2 linked regions of the Homo sapiens genome follow. The protein of the gene in region 1 purifies or fractionates together with the protein of each later gene. This does not show direct contact. Each region holds a gene or a part of one and is shown in the gene's direction. Other genes may lie near its edges.

The links.
Region 2: the proteins of SLC46A1 (region 1) and MON2 purify together in Homo sapiens (affinity purification with mass spectrometry; one large-scale study listed by BioGRID and IntAct). This does not show direct contact.

The regions. Positions count from the first base shown.
Region 1 is NC_000017.11:28,399,690-28,403,342, reverse strand, and holds part of SLC46A1 (proton-coupled folate transporter), read left to right. Parts: exon of another isoform or gene 1-1,021; coding exon 1,022-1,105; exon of another isoform or gene 1,106-2,576; coding exon 2,577-2,733; exon of another isoform or gene 2,734-3,629; coding exon 3,630-3,653.
Region 2 is NC_000012.12:62,469,826-62,473,478, forward strand, and holds part of MON2 (protein MON2 homolog), read left to right. Parts: intron 1-875; exon of another isoform or gene 876-953; intron 954-3,653. UniProt on the Homo sapiens protein: Plays a role in regulating membrane trafficking of cargo proteins. Together with ATP9A and DOP1B, regulates SNX3 retromer-mediated endosomal sorting of WLS away from lysosomal degradation.

The DNA.
Region 1 (3,653 bases):
GGGAAAAGGAACTCCCATTTGCTGTGTCCCTATGCCATGCTCTTCATAGATGTTACCTTTTTACCTCATGTATTGGTTCCCTGAGATTGCTGTAATGACATACCACAAACTTGGGGGCTTAACACAACAGAAACATATTCTCTCACAGTTCTGGAGGCCAGAAGTCCAAAGTCAGTACCACCGGGCTGAATGGAAGCAGTCAGCAGGCAGTGCTCCCTTGCAAGCCTCCAGGAGAGAACGTGTTTCTCATTTCTTCCAGCTTCTGGGGCTGCTGGCATTCCTTGGCTTGGGGCGGCCATCACCAGTCTCTGCCTCTGTGCTCACATTGACTCTCCTCCTCTTTGTGCCTTCTCAATTCTGTCGGTGCCAAATCTCCGTCTGCTTTCCTCTTATAAAGATATGTGTGACGGCATTTAGGGCCCAACCTAATCCAGGATAACTCTGCTCTCTCAGGAGGCTTAACTGCACACCTGCATAGACTCATTTTCCAAATAAGGTAGTATTTACAGGTTCCAGGGCTATGAATCTGATGCCATTGGGCACCATTATTCAGCCTCCTATGCCTCAGAACCATCCTGTGATGAAGGCCTTATTATCTTCCTCATACAGGGAGTCAGGATCAGAGAGGGTAAGTACCCCAGGCCACACAGATAATATGTAATGGCATCAGGTTTTGAACTCAGGGCTGACTCCAAAGCCCATGCTTGTTTTCTGTGCCCTGCCATATCCCTACTAAGTGCCAAGTGGGTGGGTGATGCCTGCTGTGACCACAAGAGGTTCAGACAAGAAAGCAATCAATGGGAATTAGCATTCATTCATGAGAGCTAGCAGGTGGCCAAGCCCAGACAAGGGCAGTCTCCATTCCTCCTTGACTACTGTCTTCCCACCCTCACCATCAAGGAAGTTCTTCCTGGGTCTAACCTAAGCCCCACGTGGGGTATGGATAGGAGCTCTGCTGCCTTTCCCTTGGACGCCCCTCTCCCCAGCCCCATTTTCCTGATGAGTGTTTGTTTCTCCACAGGATATGGGTTGCTTTTCCTGTCATTAGTCATCACACCTGTCATCCGGGCTAAACTCTCCAAGCTGGTGAGAGAGACAGAGCAGGGTGAGTGTCAGAACCCACCTGTGTCTGGTTCCTCATGTCCAGTGCTGCCCGAAACGGGCTGATGGGCAGCCATGGCTGGGGGAACAGCTTGCCTTCCCCCCTCTCACCCTGGAGAAGTAAGTGGCCAAAACAAACACATTTCTGTGAAATTGCCCACAATGGGCAGAGGATCATGCCACCTTGGATTTTCAAACCGCAGAGTTGGGATTTGCAGTCAGCAGAGCACAATTATGTTCTTTCTAGATAACCAGAGCAGAGGATTTACTCTCTGCAGACCTCAGCTTTTCCGTCTGTAAGATGGGTGTGGTGATGCCAGAGTTCCCTGTTTCTCTGGGGTCAGCGTGTACAAGCCCAGAAGTGAACAACCTTGTGACATGGGTTTCATTTTCCACAGTTGACAGATAAAGAAACAGAGACCCAGGGGGTTACATTGGCTCACCCAAGGTTACTCAGTAAATGGTGGAGCTAGGATGCAAACCTACGTCTGTGTTTAAAAGCAGCTGGTCTCAGGATCTGGGTTTTAGTCCGAGCCCTGCCACAGGCCTGTTTCTTCATCTGTGATGTGGGTGGTTTGCTTTTGATGACATCACAGACCCCTCTAGATGTGACAGAATTTAATCTCAACTTCTGTTGGGTTGTTGCACATTTTGTAAACTGTGGGTTCTCCTGGTATATCTATAAAGAACAGCTTCTCCAGCCTCTGGGTCTTTATGCCCCAGTCTGGAAACATTCATCTTTTTCCATCTGTCCTGGAATGAGGATCTGATGATGACAGAGACTCTGGTGCCATACAGAGCCCACTGTGGGTTCTGGTGTCCCCAGAATCCATGTGTCTTCATTCATTCACCTAAACTTTTTTTCCCAGCACTTTCTCTGTGCCCAGAGATGTCAAGAGAAACAGGAGAAAAGAACAGCCCTTACTAACTAGCTACTTCCAGGGGACCAGGCCCAGTGATGGGTGATTTCCATGTGAACTTAATGTTGCTCACAATCTAGGAAATAGGTATTATCCTTATTTAGCAGAAGGAGGAACAGGAACCCAAAGGATAAGAAGCTATTCAGTGGTGACACCGCTATGAATATTGGAACTGATCAGACCAGCAGTTAATCCCAAACAGGAGATGATTCCAAAGAGGATAAACCAGAAAAAAGCCATTTCCATCAAGCTTTCATCAGACAATATCACATGTACTTTTTTTTTCTTTTATGTGCTGGGTTCTGTCAGATCACATGTACTTTTAATGTGGATTTAATAGCAGCCATTTGTTTAGTAGCCCCTCTGTGCCAGCTACTGTCCACATATGACCTTACTGAATCCTTGTCACAGTACATGATGTAGCAGGATTTACTGGTGAGGAAGGGGAGACATAGGTTAAGTGACTACTCCCGGTCACACAGCTGTGAGGTGGTGGTGCCAGAGTTGGAATATGGCCCTTTCGGACTCCAGAGTATGGTATTTATTTCTTCACAGGTGCTCTCTTTTCTGCTGTGGCCTGTGTGAATAGCCTGGCCATGCTGACGGCCTCCGGCATCTTCAACTCACTCTACCCAGCCACTCTGAACTTTATGAAGGGGTTCCCCTTCCTCCTGGGAGCTGGCCTCCTGCTCATCCCGGCTGTTCTGATTGGGTAATGCAGGGCCCTGAACCCATGCTCATAATGGAGCCCTTTCTCTTAAAAGTTTCCTCTTCTCCTCCCAACCAGAAATGGCAGCTTCATTCCTGGAATCCTTACCCTCTGGGTGTCTTGTCCCAGGTTGCCCCTCTCCTTGCAGATGGCTGCCTAATCCTCCAGGAGCCATTTTCCAAGGGCGAGATGGCGAGCTAGGTGGAGGAAGGATCAGGCTAACATTGCTGCTTGGCAAGGCTGTGTTCTCTCTCCCAGTTCCCCTATTTCCCTCCATTCCCATTTTATAGATGGAACTATGGCAGCAGAACTGTGTTAAAGGGAAGGCCAGGAAGCTTTGTCAGCTAGTTGTGGCTGGGCCACAGGCTAGCTTGACCCGCTGACTTTTTCCTGTATGATATTAAGAATTATATTTCATGGCCGGGCGTGGAGGCTCTTGCCTGTAATCCCGATCCTGTGGGAGGCTGAGGCAGGAGGACCACTTGAGCCCGGGAATTCAAGATCAGCCTGGGCAACATAGCAAGACCTTGTCTGTATAAAAAATTTAAAAAATCACCCAGGCATGGTGGTATGCACTGGTAGTCCCAGCTACTAAGGAGGCTGAGGCAGGAGGATCACTTGAGCCCAGGAGTTCAAGGGTACAGTGAGCTATGATTATGTCACTGCCCTCCAGCCTGGACAACAGAGCAAGACCCTGTCTCTTAAAAAAAAAAAAGTTATTTTCCAGAGCCATGTCCCTGGATATTGTCCTCCAGCTCTCAGCTTCTCAGCTTGGGGAAGGAGGAGGTTCAGGAGAGCTACCTGGACCAGCCCACCCCAGTAAATCCTGTGTCACTTCTCCAGACAGGCCTTGAGGGTTCCCCACATGAAATCCAAACTCTCTCTCTGGTCTCTCACAGGATGCTGGAAAAGGCTGATCCTCA
Region 2 (3,653 bases), on another chromosome or scaffold:
TTTATTTCAAATTTTTAGTCATTTCTGTCTTTTATGGCCATAGTGCTTGACTATTATTTTATTTATTTATTTATTTATTTATTTATTTATTTATTTATTTGAGACAGGATCTCTTTCACCTAGGCTGGAAGTGCAGTGGCAGGATCTTGGCTCACTGCAGCGTTGACATCCTGGGTTCAAGTGATTCTCCCACCTCAACCCCCTGAGTAGCTGGGACTACAGGTGCATGCCACCACACGCAGCTGATTTTTGTATTTTTTTTGTAGAGACAGGGTCTCACCATGTTGCCGAGGCTTGTCTCCAACTCCTGCGATTAGGCAATCTGTCCACCTCCTACTCCCAAAGTGCTAGGATTATAGGCGTATCCCAGGCTGCCCATGTAATTCTTTTTTAAAATTAATAATAAGCTGGATTTAAAGATTTCAAATCTGTTAGAAAAACCAATAAAAGAGTATTGATAAAGAATAGTGCTTTATTTACTGATATTTACTTACTGTCTTTGGACTTCTACATGGTTTTTCCTACCTTACTGTTTTCATTTATAACTCTATCCTTTGTATATTAAATTGTTGTTGTAGTGGCTATGGCTTTATTCTGTCATTTTATAATAACCTCTTTCTCTTTTTTTCTATTTTTCTTAGTTGTTATACATAAATCTTCATGTTTTAGCAGTATAACTTTTTTTAGTACAACTGTACTAGCTAATTTGGGAATATTGTATGAAATTTTTTCCTTTGTTTTAAAAATTACTTTGAAGCCTTCCATGATCACTTCTATGTGATTAATATTCAGTGGCCTTTAGAGGAAGACAACTCTGAAGCTTTATGTTTATGTATTTCATGAATAAAAACTTTCTTATTATTTCCTATTTGCAGGTACAGATGAGGGGTATCTAACTGAGCCTGGAAGTTGGAGGAGGGGAGTCATTCCTAGCAGAGGAAATAGCACACGTTGTTAGTATTCCATGTAAAATAAATTTTATACTGAAGATGATTGGAGCCATTAGAGCTTTTTGAAAGAGAGTAATATGATCAAATTGATATTTAGTAACATTGCCTTGACAGTTGGTAGGAAGAATTAGAGGGTATTGAGACTGAAGCAAAGAGAGCAAAGTTTAAAAAATGATGATTCTCTGTTTTGAAGCAGTAGTGGACATAGACAGAAGGTTGCTTGCATTGAGTTAGACAGTAGTGAAAGAGCGTATAGATTGAAAAGGTAAAAATTACCAAGGCATGGTAATCTTTTATATAATGGAGAGAGAGAAATGTGTGATGCCTCCCAGGTTTCTGGCTTGGGAAACTAGGTGGATCACTAAGAGAAGAAATAAAAGAGGAGGAAATGTTTTGGGGGAAAATGAGTAGTCATGTGTGTATATTGTTTGAGACGGAGTCTCTGTTGCCAGGCTGGAGTACAGTGGCACAATCTCGGCTCACTGCAACCTCCGCCTCCCAGGTTCAAGTGATTTTCCCGCCTCAGCCTCCTGAGTACCTGGGATCACAGGCGCGTGCCACCACACCTGGCTAATTTTTTGTATTTTTAATAGAGACGGGGTTTCACCATGTTGGCCAGCCTAGTCTCGAACTCCTGACCTAAGGTGATCTGCCCGCCTCGGCCTCCCAAAGTACTGAGATAGCAGGCGTGAGCCACCACACCCAGCAGAGTAGTCATTATATTAAGATTTATGTGTGACATCCAAGTGGAACTGACCAGTAGGTGTTTGAAAATGATGGTTTGGCACTTAAGAGGGAAGTCTGGAATTTCAAATTTAGGAGTATCAGTTTATAAATAATATTTGAAACCATAGAATTGGATGAAATGGGCCAGGAAGAGTGTGTGTATAGAGTGAGAATATCAGGACTGGAAAAGGAACTGTGGGAAACAACATTAAAGAAAAAGGCTGCTGGGCAGACTGAGGTTAAAGATACAGGAGAGAAAGGTAAAACTCGTTAGAGGAAGGTCCTTGAGAAAACTGAAGTTTCAGTGGCATAAGTATATGAACAGGATTTCAATCTGAGAAAGGACACATTACCTTCTGACAGAGGAAGGACAAAGGAAAAACCGGGTTTGAATGTGACAAATTTGACAGAAGGGAGCGACAAGTTGTGGGCAGTTTGGTCTGTGGCCTCTGCTTTCTTGCGAAGATAAGAAACAAGCTTGTTAGTAGGAATAATTAAGTGATAAAAGAAGTAGGGGGTGGCAAGTTTGAGGAGAGCAGTGGATCACTTTGGAGAAGTGGAGGAGAAATTGTCTTGGAACACTTAAGAGTCTTAGCAGGAAGAGTGGTTGAAATAATGGTGGATTGTGAGAGCTAGGTTGGATTCCCAAAGAAGGAAAGCCAATAGTTTGGATTGACTGGATGATGATGGGAAGGTTAAAGGCTAGCAGCACCTATTTCATCAAAGAGCAGTGGGGTTGGGGAGTGAGAGAGCTAGAAGGATAGGAGTTGGGACAATGGTGGGAATATTGCATTTCAGATTGCCCAGCACTAGAGGATGATGAAGTCCAGGGAATGGGTGGTAGAAGAGTAAAGGGAAAGAAGTTCATTTGAGTTTAGGTGGTCAGAATTAGGGAATTGGATAGATTCCTTTTCTCTCTTTTTAAATGATGCAGAATCAGTAAGGGTATAAATAATTTAAAAGTGCAAGTAGTCTTCCTAGGCTATGTAGTTTAAGTTTCCTGTTACCCATTCAGGCCTAATAGAAATTGGCTGGCAGAGAAAAGCAAAGGTTTCTTGTGATAGAGTTCCTCAGTATCCAGGTGTTTTGCTTTGTTAACTGGCTTAGGGAGACCCCTAGTGAAAGAGATGCCTTCTACTTACTGTGACAGGATTTGCCATTTAATCAGATATTTAGGGACTGTGACTAATGTCATTGGCTCTCCTGGTTGGGTTAACACCTCATTTGCACGACCTTATGACATTGAAGATGAGGGCTGGATAATCTTTACGAGCTTACTTGGGATCTGTTTTGGTTTAGTATTTTATAATGTGGTTTCTTCCTCTTGACATTGTGTTCTTTCTCCCATAAGCGTAATATAATATATTCATGCTTTATATATTGAAAGCTATAAACTGAAATAAATGATTACCTGTGCTTTGGTGACAGAAAAAATAAAAGACATATTCTCTAACTTATAAGCCAAAAAGGAAGACATATTTCAAAATTTGATTTATTTTTCTTTTTTCCTTTATGTAAGCATAGCTGAACATTTTCAACCATGTATGAAGTAGAAGGTTTTGCTGTTACTGTTATAATTTAACAGAAATTTATGAGTCTCCTAAAAAAGCACAGCAGGAACACAGAAATAATTGAGAAATTGCCTTTAGTCTCATGAAGTTAACTCAAGGTTGAATAAAATGTTGCCTTCCCACTAGGCTTGGAACTTTGCATCCTTAGACTCTAATGCAACATGCCATATTAAATATTTCATTTTACAGATGAGGAAACTGGTATAGACAGGTTTAGTAATTTGCATAAGGTAGTAAAGCTGGAAAATGGTGGAAATGGTGGAAATGGTATGTGAGTCCATGTGAGTCCATCTCTAACTCCTCTCCCATTTTCCATTATATCATGCTGCACATGCCTTTACAACTTTCTTGTTTTTGTTATTGTTCCCATTTGTTTACCTTGCTTCATTATTTGTTACTATTGGTT